Linked DNA regions of Homo sapiens. The protein of the gene in region 1 purifies or fractionates together with the protein of each later gene. This does not show direct contact. Each region holds a gene or a part of one and is shown in the gene's direction. Other genes may lie near its edges. The genes, in order: FZD3, SLC10A4 and NUMBL.

The links.
Region 2: the proteins of FZD3 (region 1) and SLC10A4 fractionate together in Homo sapiens (co-fractionation; one large-scale study listed by BioGRID). This does not show direct contact.
Region 3: the proteins of FZD3 (region 1) and NUMBL fractionate together in Homo sapiens (co-fractionation; one large-scale study listed by BioGRID). This does not show direct contact.

The regions. Positions count from the first base shown.
Region 1 is NC_000008.11:28,497,130-28,500,779, forward strand, and holds part of FZD3 (frizzled-3 isoform 1 precursor), read left to right. Parts: intron 1-2,803; 5' UTR 2,804-2,849; intron 2,850-3,650. UniProt on the Homo sapiens protein: Receptor for Wnt proteins.
Region 2 is NC_000004.12:48,486,193-48,490,026, forward strand, and holds the end of SLC10A4 (sodium/bile acid cotransporter 4), read left to right. Parts: intron 1-2,234; coding exon 2,235-2,747; 3' UTR 2,748-3,334; downstream 3,335-3,834. UniProt on the Homo sapiens protein: Transporter for bile acids.
Region 3 is NC_000019.10:40,687,811-40,692,139, reverse strand, and holds the start of NUMBL (numb-like protein), read left to right. Parts: upstream 1-1,488; 5' UTR 1,489-1,656; coding exon 1,657-1,680; intron 1,681-1,975; exon of another isoform or gene 1,976-2,100; intron 2,101-4,329. Other genes in the region: COQ8B (atypical kinase COQ8B, mitochondrial), read left to right, coding at 1-105. UniProt on the Homo sapiens protein: Plays a role in the process of neurogenesis. Required throughout embryonic neurogenesis to maintain neural progenitor cells, also called radial glial cells (RGCs), by allowing their daughter cells to choose progenitor over neuronal cell fate.

The DNA.
Region 1 (3,650 bases):
AACCTAGATGGATTTACTTTTCCTCTGTGTGTGTGTTTTAAGCCTTAATCACTTAACACATTGGAAGATTAAGTTATTTGTTGTAATCAGTAGATGATGACAAATGGACTTTAAACATTAGATGAAGCAGGAAAGTTCAGAAAAGAGATACTCTGAGATTAATAGGAATCTAGGTCCTGTGAATTAAATATGAAGCTATATAAACTTTCTTGTAGCAACCAGTAGGCAAAGGGCCAAAGACTATATAGACTTTAAGAGAAGGAAAGTAACATTTGAGCAATGAGTGTACACTGAGTGTATATTTTGTCTAACAAGACAATAATTTCCTTAAGAAGCTCTTATTTAGAGATAGTTATTGCTAATCCTTGCAATGCGTTCTTGAAAACGTGTCTGAAAAAAGACAAAGAATATCCCTCCTGTTCGCTCTGTAGGCACTGTGTAACCAGCATTTACTTTGAAACAACCTTTAGATGATCTTTCTCAATTGGAAATGCAAAATGTTACCTGCATTTATCAGGTGTCAAGAAAATGAAATCTCAACAGAATGATGGAATGGAGCCCTTTCTGTAGAGAAAGTGTGAATTGGAATAGAGTTGCTGAACATAATCTTTTGTTGCAGAACCCCTTTGACAAGCCCTTAGGGCCCTCTTTTCTCATCATCCTTTCTTCTGGGATTCAGCCTGCTTTCCTCTTCACAGTTGCCACCTCCTGCGTTTCCCACCGAGTTCTTTGGGTCTGATTTTGCAGGCAGCCCGGGAAGACAGTCTTCCAAGATTGGAATCCCTTCCCTTTATTGCTGTCTTTCAGGACAAATACTTAGTTGATTTTATTTTAAAGACTTTTACTTTTTGTCATCAAAAGAAACCTGATAAATAATGGTTGGAAATATAAAATTCCTGATGTTATACATTCATAAAAATAGAAATGGGTAAGCTTTAAAGTATCTAGTCCTTTTTGTTTTCTGATGGAATGTTAACCAAGTAACTTAGTCCGAAATCAGCTTTCCAGATATTCTGTATTGCTCTATGGAGAAGTGAATGTGTCTCTTTTCCCATACAAAGGGCGTGAGCAACTGTTGCATAGCATTCACTTTTTGCAGGGCCCTGGCCCCTGAAGCTGCTCACTCCGATTATGTTAATCTAATAGGTCCCCCCCCTTTTTTTTTCCAGTTGATATACTACAGTTTCTTATAATAAAAAAAAAATCAGTAAGAACGCCCCAAATGACTGTTAACTTTTATTTAATGACTTGCTACATTTTGATAGGATCTCTTTGGGTCCAGAATCTTTGCTATGTCCTGCAAGTCTGGAACTTCAACTTACAGCTTTTCCATGGATGACCTTACCTTAGGAAAAATGGCATACTCACATAATTGTGATTAGAAGCAGATAATTCATTATGTTATTGAAGACATATTATTTGGAATGTTTATCAAAAGTTTTTATTTTTTTATTTTATTTAATTTTTTTGAGACAGTCTCACTCTGTCACCCAGGCTGGATGCAGTAGTACAGTCTCCACTCACCGCAACCTCCACCTCTCATGTTGAAGCAATTCTCAAGCCCCTCCTGAATAGCTGGGCCTACAGGCGCATGCCAGCTAATTTTTGTATTTTTAGTAGAGATGGGTTTTTGCCGTGTTGGCCAGGCTGGTCTCAAACTCCTGGCCTCAAATGATCTGCATGCCTTCGTCTCCCAAAATGCTTGGATTACAGGCGTGAGCCACTGTGCCCAGCCAGGAATGTTTATCAAAAGTTTTTAAATTGTGCATACCATTTGATTCAGTTGATTGGTTATCTGATTTTTTTAGTATTGAAAATCAGATTTTGACTCTTACTAAATTGATCATCACTGATTTGCTTTTCTTACTAGGTACAGTAGAGCAGTAGTGTATTCCTTGGCTTGTTGCTTAATTAGTAGTCAATAAACCAGTCATTTCACTAGTATTTTTTCTTGTCAGCCAGTCAGCACATATTTACAGATTTAGCAGAGTTAATTACTTCATACACAAAATAATGTACTATAGGTTCTTTCATAAAATTCCATAAAGCATTTAATATTTTATTTTTAAACAATCGAAATAGTTTTACTGTGTTACATGTACATATATATTTTCTGACAAAATGAGAGATATATACATATACTGTTTTGTAAACTGCCTTTAAATTTTATTTTTTATTTATTGTTACTATCTTACTGTATCCACAAATACAGGTTTATGCTCATCATTTTTAGTAACTATATAATATTCCATCATGTGGTTATACCATAATTTATTTAACCAATTTCTTATTGGTAGACTTTTCAGTTGTTACCAGCTTTTAGGGTTTTTTTTGTTATAAACAGTGTTACACTAATATTTTGGTTGTGCATCATGTGTACTTACGTGTTTACTTAGAATAATAAGATTTGCTGGATGAAATTGTGTACATTTTAAGGGCTTTTGATATAAGTAGCCACTTTTTTTTTTAAGTACCAACTAGTTTACTAATAACATTTGAAAATGTTGAAATATTGAAGGTGTTCTTTACCCTGTACTCCCACCCTATACTGTGTTCTATCATTATTGTTTTTTCCTATCTGGTTGGCAAAAAATCTTATCTCACATTTGCATTTTTTATTATTAGTGAAGTTGAATATCTTTTCATATGTTTCTTGGCTGTTTGTATTTCTTTTGTAAATTTATGTCCTTTGCTTATTTTTCTATTAAAATGTTATCCCCTATCTGCTTTTATTTTTAAAATTCATTTACTGTATATAATTACATAAACAATACCTTTATTCTTTTTAATTATTCTGTTCTAGGATAGCATTTCTCAAGACCTGACTTATGGAGCACTTGTAACCTGAGGTAATCATTAGAATGCATATCATTCTCCAGGATTCAGATTTCCAGGGGAATCCATGAATCTGCTACACTTTACGATTAGAGAACTGCTGTTTTGGGGGAAATGAAAATTCTTTAACACCTATACTTTACCTGTTTTCTTCATGTCTCACTGAATTCCACTGCTGTTTTTTCCCTTCTTTTAATAATCATAAACTGCAGTCTTGCTGTATCAAGATTCTTGTCCTTTCACAGCTTAACAGTAGATTTTACAAAAGCATCTTGGTACATGGTAATTTGAATGTCATAGTACATAAGGAAGCACTTTTATAAGAAGGTAGGATGCTTTACTTGCAAGTAAGGCAAAAGGAATAATCAAAAGGAAACCAGGTAAAATAGATGGAGTAGGCAGAAGTATAGGGGGACATTTCAGCTAGTTTTAAAGGCTCAGTGAGATATTGCTCAGTTTCTTCTTCAGGTTTTATGTGGTAGTCTTCTTTGAACCATTGATTTGAAACCCATACCTGCTTGAAAAATAGATTAGTTTAAATGAAATTTTTGAAATTCTTGTTGTTACTATATGCGTATTCAACAGGGAGTAATGTTCCCTTTAATTTTATTTAGTTGCAAGCAGATGAATATGCTGCATAAGTAATAAACTACAAAGACTGAACTTACATGGATGTTTTAATACTACAATCAAATAAAACTTTCAACAGTTACTTGACATATTTAGTGATATGCATAATTGTTACTGCGCTGCATGGTAATTAAGATAAATATGTTTTTAACTGTGGTTAATACCAGTTTTCTTTTTTTTTTCTG
Region 2 (3,834 bases), on another chromosome or scaffold:
CTTTTATTAATATGAAAAGTAGAGAGTTCTTTTCTGTGCATATATCCAGGCTTGAGTAAAAGAAATCCTGCTCCATAATACACATGTATATGTGAATGTAAAAATGTATGTGTACATGTAAATATGCATATATTAATACCTGTAATATATACTCATAGATACTCTTGAGATGCATTAAGAACTTGTTAATCTTAATCATTAAGCTAATGCTATTAATGTGATGGCATTTACTATAAAACCTTAGGAAGTCTAAGAGAAAGTCAATCAAATGACCTATTTACACACCCAAAACAAGAAATATATTTAAAATAAATATATTAATAAATTAATATATTTAATATTTAAATATAATAGACATAAGATTAGCTACCTTTGAATTTAAGGTTAACCTAGCCCTATTCTTTAATTAACACACTATTAAGAAACGGTTTATATAATTGTTACACCTTTGCAAACACTTCAAAATGAGCATTCAATGTCAATGCTTGCCCAAATGATTTAAAATAGTTCTAAGGGACTTTGGAGCCAATATTTCAAAATGAAGAAATCAGACTGTTTGTCAGCGCTTTCAATGTGACATACTTTGAAATGGTATGCTTTTACATGTAATAGCCTGGTTTCTGCCAATTATGCATCTGTAGTATCTGTACCTTATATAATAATTATTGCAGCATCCTCTAGGGTAGAATTTGTGACCAGCTCAGATAAATTTTAAATAATTTTTTAAGAGTGTAGAGTTACGCCATTCCCGAAGACTGCAAAAGGGATATCCCAGCTATCCAGGGAACCAGAAGCAACATTTAAGCTGTTCTCTCTGGCTCTAGTTTCCTTTCCCTGCCCACTCCTCATTAAAAAAAAATAAGTTAACTACCAATATGAAGGAGAACGAGGAGAGGAATTTTTAGATTTCCGCCTTACAATTCATACAGACTGTTTTATTTGAATGAGTGAAATGTACCAGTCAGAACATCAAGATGACACGTTTTATACAGAAGTCAGTTGTACTGTATCCGAAATCCATCTATTGTAATAATACGTAAGCATCATTACAGACTTATAGATGGGAGGTTTCTCATGAACAAATAAAAAAGGGGAAAGTTGCCAAATTGCAAAGAATTCTTCACATATTTATTTACATTTTTCTCTCTTACATAATCTAAGAGTAGGTAATTGTTTCAATATTGCAAGCAATCCTCTGCAGTATATTTTGAGGGTTAAAAAGATCACACACTGAGCTTCAGACATTTTAATCAAGTTTCACAAGTTTTAACTCATGTAAAATGAGAACTAATTTCTTATGGAAAACACGGGGTTCAGTTCAGGGAAAGTAAACATCCACTTGTCTGCTCTGATGATCAGACCATACCTGGGGTATTAGGTTCAGTTCTAAATGCCCTGTTTTTAAGAGGCACATTCACATATGAAACACATTCTCAGAACAGTCAGGATACCAAAACAAAGTTATGTGATGGAGGTTTAAGTTTGGGGATGATCTGCCTGAAGAAGAGTAGCCTTCCCCTGATAACCAGTTTTTAAGCTTTTGAAGAGCTGTTTTTCAGGAAAAAAGCTTTTGAAGGCTATTTTTTTTTGAAGAGCTTTTTTTTTTTTTTTTTTTTTTTTTTTTTTTGGTGAAATGGAGTGTTGCTCTGTCACCCAGGCTGGAGTGCAGTGGCGCGATCTCTGCTCACTGCAACCTCCACCTCCCAGGTTCAAGCAATTCTCTGCCTCAGCATCCCGAGTAGCTGGGATTACAGGCATTCACCATCACACCTGGCTAATTTTTGTATTTTTAGTAGAGACAGTGTTTCACCATCTTGGCCAGCCTGGTCTTCAACTCCTGACCTCATGATCCACCCACCTTAGCCTCCCAAAGTGCTGGGATTACAGGTGTGAGCCACCGCGCCTGGCCAGAAAAGCTGGGTTTTTTTGTTTGTTTTTTGTTTTTGAAGAGCTGGTCTCTGTCGCTCCTGAGAGCCTATATCCAACTCAATGGCTAGAGGTTATAGAAGGCAAATTGTCCCTGGACATAAGGACAGGCCTCCAAACAATCAGAGCTGCCCAATGTGGCTCTGGATGCTTCCTGAAGAGGTGGCCTGCCCATCTTCAGAAATATTCTGTCAAAGGTCTCCATTTTGTGTTGGAGAGCATACTAGATGGGTGTTTTCTTCCGTGAGCTTAGGATTCTCTCGCCTGAGTTCATCTTCAACCATCTCATTGTAATTTTCTATTACTAGGTTTCCCTGTGGTCTCTGCTAGTGACTCTGGTGGTCCTTTTCATAATGACCGGCACTATGTTAGGACCTGAACTGCTGGCAAGTATCCCTGCAGCTGTTTATGTGATAGCAATTTTTATGCCTTTGGCAGGCTACGCTTCAGGTTATGGTTTAGCTACTCTCTTCCATCTTCCACCCAACTGCAAGAGGACTGTATGTCTGGAAACAGGTAGTCAGAATGTGCAGCTCTGTACAGCCATTCTAAAACTGGCCTTTCCACCGCAATTCATAGGAAGCATGTACATGTTTCCTTTGCTGTATGCACTTTTCCAGTCTGCAGAAGCGGGGATTTTTGTTTTAATCTATAAAATGTATGGAAGTGAAATGTTGCACAAGCGAGATCCTCTAGATGAAGATGAAGATACAGATATTTCTTATAAAAAACTAAAAGAAGAGGAAATGGCAGACACTTCCTATGGCACAGTGAAAGCAGAAAATATAATAATGATGGAAACCGCTCAGACTTCTCTCTAAATGTGGAGATACACAGGAGCTTCTATCTTGCTGAAATATTGCTTCATATTTATAGCCTGTGGTAGTGCACATGGTTAACATAAAAGATAACACTGGTTCACATCATACATGTAACAATTCTGATCTTTTTAAGGTTCACTGGTGTATTAACCAAACGTTGTCACAAATTACAAATCAATGCTGTAATATAATTTGCACCTGGAATGGCTAACGTGAAGCCTGAATTAAATGTGGTTTTTAGTTTTTACCATCACCAATTTCTATGACTGTTGCAAATACAGAATCTATTAGAAAACAGGGTCTTGGAAATGTAGAATTTTGGCGCACTATGAGGAAAAACAAGCTATCTTTGTAAAGCATAATTGAGTTTAATGTAATTGTTGTAAAAAAAAAAGTGTGCTTGCTCTACTTAAAATTCCTCACAATGTTGAATTTTGACCTGTATTCAGAAGAATTCCAAAACAGGTCAGTTAAATAAGGAAATATAGTATTTGTCAAACCAGTATCAGAGAAAAGTTACATTAATGTATTTGATTACTTGATCTGGTATCTACTTATTAATGAATAATCAACATTTTTCTAGTGGACAAGCCATGTTCTTTTCGACTGGTCTTCTGCATTTATGTAAACACACCCCAAATCAATTTATCTTTTGTAGGAATGATTTGGTTGGGAAATTTTTCAGAACCGCTCTGGAGCAGAACAAAACGGTACCTCCCGGTCACCACTGGGACTGGGGGAAGGGACACGCTCCAGGGGAGAAAACAATTCGCCTAGATGAAGATCCCTGGGTGGTTCTCCATGCACTCGCCGAGGGGGCTCAGTGGGTAGCCTCTTAGAGCAGCTCTGAGAATAAACTTATCATCTGAGTTAACGGGTAATAGACCCAGAACAGTTCCCAAACCTTGGCACTTTCGCTCACTTAGCCAGAGGCACCCGGCCTGGCCTCGGCTTCCCGGTGAGGGAGCGGGGGTGGGGGGGATGCGCAGGCACCTGGAACAATCAGGGCACCGGGAGAAGCCGGCTCAGCTGATGCCGGTGATGAGTTTCTCTCATTGAAATCCTCCTCACCTCGGGCGCCTTGGTT
Region 3 (4,329 bases), on another chromosome or scaffold:
CTCTTCCAGGACACCTACCACCGCTACTGGGCCAGTCGCCAGCCAGACGCAGCCACTGCCGGCAGCCTCCCCACCAAAGGGGACTCCTGGGTGGATCCCTCATGACAGCCTCCATGGGGGATTCAGTCCCCAGAGCAGGCCGTACCCTGCTGTAGTGCCTCTTATCCCTTCCCCGTCTGCCCTGGGTCAGAGGAGCCCCCTTGGGCTTCCCAGTCTTGCCTGGCTCTCCTCCTTGGCCCAGGAGCTCAGGATCCCTGGGGCTGGGGAACTCCCAACTTCGTGCCCTAGATCCTGCACCTCCCCACTCGAAAGTGGGTATCCGAAAACTAAGCCAGGGAAGCGGTTAACTTATCTTTGCCAACATTTGAGGGAGCCTTGGGCCGCTGCATGTCGTTATGCAGATCAGACTCATCAGGGGGAGCCCTCACCTCTGCCTCAAGCCTCCCGTGGAAGGCGAGATGGTCCTGGAGGCAGTCCTCACCTCTGCCTCCCTCGCTCCTCCAACAGCTGCCTTCTCCCGGGTTCCAGCCTCTCAGTGTGTTGGAGAGGTAGGGGTGCGGGGTGGGGGGGAGCTGAATCTTCAATCGGAATAAAAGCAGCCCTCCCCTTCCCCCAGCTCTTTTCTCTGCGCTAGGGTTGGGGGGAGAGGGGGAGGAGCTCGCCAGCGGCCTCCAGGTGCAGATGGCCAGCCCCCCTGCACCCCCTTGTCTGAAAGCCTCAGCCCTGCCTGTGCCATCTGTTGCCGGGAACCTCCTTCTCGCCTTCCCCACCCCCCCCCACGTGCTGACCACCTGCTCTAAGGGCTGTGGCAGCTGAGGCCTCCCACACACACAGTGCCTCTTGGCTGCGGGCTCCCTCCCCTCACTCCTGGCAACCTCGCCTTTACTAATGGGCTCTAATGTCCCTGCCAGCTGCTTTGCCAAACCCACAGGATTGGCGTAGGGGGCGGCGGGGGCGCCGTAGCGGCCAGAACCGCGCCCTGGTCCCACCCCGGCGCCCCCGTTCCCAAAGCCGAACCGATCGCGCATCAGGACGCCTTGGTCTGTTCACACCCCCTCCCCTTCCTTGCAAAAAGTGCCTCGTCACCGCTCCTGCCCGCCCCCGCCGGGCTGGGGAACCATGGGGTTAGCGGGAAGATTTGGGGGTGTGGGGCGGCAAGGCGCCTCTAGAAGCAACTCTTTCGGACGCGGAGCTGGAGGGGATCTGAGGTCAGGTGTCACGGAGGGAAAGGGAGCCCAGGCCAGGACGGACCGGGGGAAAGGACTCGGCGATGTTCATAGGCATGCTCAGCTCGGGACTGGCCAATGGGCGTGGCGGGGCGGTGGCCGCGCCGGGGAAGGCGGGATGGTGTCTGCGTGTGGGCGGGGTCTTCAGGCCAAGGGGCGGGGCGGGGCGGGACCTTTCTGCATATACGGCAGGCGGCGGGCCAATGGGCGGGGTCGGGGCGGGGAGCCGAGGCCGAGGGACGCTCCCCCGCCCCCGGAACGGAATCCTCCCGGGAGCCGAGGAGGCTCGCGCGCGTGCATCCCGCACCATCCCCCGGCCCCGGGCCCTGGCCGGCGTCAGACCGAGCTGCCGCCGCCACCACCGCAGCAGCAGCAGTCGGGGAGCCAGGCCCAGCCAGGGCCGCGGGAGGCGGGGGCGCCCGGGCCCTGGATGTCCCGCAGCGCGGCGGCCAGCGTGAGAAGGGCGGGAGAGGGGGGCTCGGGTCGGGGGCGGCGCCGCTGCTGATGTGGCGGAGGGTGGGAGGCGGCCGCGGCGCCCGGATGGAGAGAGGGTGCCAAGGCTGGAGAGGGTGGTCCCGGGTGGGGGTCCAGGAACAGGCCCAACAAGCCAAAGCCCAGGAGACCGGGGTCTTGGGCACAGACCCCTGGGCCATCTCTTGCCAAGGCCCTGGAAATAGGGATCCTGGACACAGACCCCCCACAAAACCAAGGACAGGGGTACAGAGATTCTAGGTACAACTCCTAGAACTAGATGGGGATGGAGATGGGGTCGGGGACACAGCCCCCGTATCAAACCAAGGCCTCCAGGACGCGATTCCAGACACAATCCCTACCTCTCCCTGCCTAAGGGGGTCTCAGCACAACAACTGCCTAGGTACGGTCTCGAGGATGGGGTCACTGGGTACAGCGTTCCCACCACGCCAAGGCCTAGGGGGACTCCAAGCACAGCCTGCCCCCAGGTCTCAGAGGCACCCTGGGCACAGCATCCCCCCAATCCTTGGGCGGAGTCCCAGGCACAGCCACTTCTCAAAACAAGGTCCCTGTGCCTGGGACTCCACCCCACCCCAGCCTGAATAAAATAAGGACAATTTCAGGCAACCCCCAATCCCTCCACCCCCTGGCTTGGTCATGGGTCCCAGGGCACAGGATCCCTAGGCCACCCCCTTTGTCCCCAGGGCTGCCCAGCTGTCCAAGAGTGGCCCCACCCGCAGACAATGCACCGCTTCCCCCTCCTGGACCTGGCCCTCAGGCTCCAGGATACAGGCTGGGCTGGGGGCGGCTCCCCAGGGACCGGGTGCAGCCCTGTCTGTCTGCAGTGTCTGCGGTGACGGTGACGGCGGCTTTGTGTGTGGTACCTGGGGGGAAGGGGGGAAGCAAGCGATGGGGAGGTGGCTAGGAGTGTGCCCTGTGTTTGTGTGACTGTGGCTGTGTATGTGTGTGTGTGTGTGCACGCGTACGCTGCAGCTGGTGACTGAGGAATCCTGTGTCGTGTGTGTGTGCTTGTGGTGGTGTCTATGATTGTGTCTGTGACCCTAGTATCTGTGTGACTGTGTATGTGTGTGTGACAGCTGCTCACTGTGCAGAATCCTGTACTTTTTAGTCTGTCTGTGTTTGGAGGTGTGCATGGTTGTGACTGTGGTTGTCTGTGATTGTGTCTTTTGTGACCCTGTGTTTGTATGCCTCGGTAACTATAACTGGGTATGTGACAGTATGTGTTGAGTCTGGGGGTGGGCATGCGTGTGACTGACAGGACGTGGGTGGAGTTGTGACTGTGTGTGAGTGGAGTTGTCTATGGCTCCATGTGCATGTGTGACCCTCCCAGTGACTGACAATGTTTATAGTTGTGTCTCTACCTGATTTTATATACGTGAGTGACACACACCTGTCTGTGCAACTCTGCCTGTGTGACTGCCATTGTGTCTGAAGTCACATTGTATCTGTGTGACTGGGGTTGTGTGACAGTATTGTGTATGACAGTGGTTGCGTATGCAGAACCATGTCTGAGTGTGTGACTGAGGTTGTATTAATATAAATGACTGTATCTAGCAGTGTGTGTGATAACGAGTGATTGTGTGTATTTCTAGCCTTGCATGTGTGATTTGGGTTATGTATTTGACTTGGTGTCTGAAACCCTGGCTATTTAGAGGGATTATTTGTGTGTGACTAAAGCTGTGGATGTGTCTCCGTGCTGGTGCCAGGAAATTATGTTTGTAGGGGTGTGTATATGATTATGGCTTCCATATTATTGTGTTTGACCTGCATGTCTGACCCTGGGTGACTATAGATGTCTGTGTCTATGTCATCATCTGTGAGAGTGTGGGGTCTGTAGCTGTGTGCCTGTTTTTGTCTCTGTGTGTATGTGCTGGACTACCTGTGTTAGAATGTGTGATTTGGTGATGAGATTGGCCCCTGACTGTGCACATGGCTCCGTCAGGACCTGTGTCTTCTGTGTAAACCCAGCTATAAATGCCACATCCTGGTCACTGCATTTATGTGCATACACTGGACTGTGTACTTGTGACATGGGAAACTAAAACTGTGTGCTTATGTCTCTATGTGTGAGATATGTGTGTAGGTGGGGCTTGTGACTTTGTGCACCTGTCCACACGGGGCTGTGATTCTATATGGCCACATACTTGTCTGTGTGACTTGTGTGCCTGCATGAAGAAAGGCTATATGTTTCGCTGCATTGGAGTGACATGGTACAGCTGTGTATGGACACTGGGTGACGGGATTATGACCATGATAGGTGGCTGGGTCACATGGACATTGATGCTGTGGCCATGCCTATAGGACCACCATGGCTGTGTCTTGAGGGAGGCCATCCTTGGGGACAGTTGTTTGTGGGTGGTTGCATGCTGTGGCCATCAGTACCTCTGTATGTGGTTGTGTATAGAGGACTGTCCCTATGAGTGTGGCTGTCACAATAGACTGTGTGACTGATGCTGTGACCAGATTTGAGCACCTATGACTGAGTATGTGTGACCACGTGACAGTGTGTGGCCAAAAACAGTGTGTTGGTGTGACTGGTCTGGTTGAGGCTGCATGTGGTCTCCGTGGGACCAAATGTGTGTCTGTCCGTGTGCATCTGTGACCAGATGTC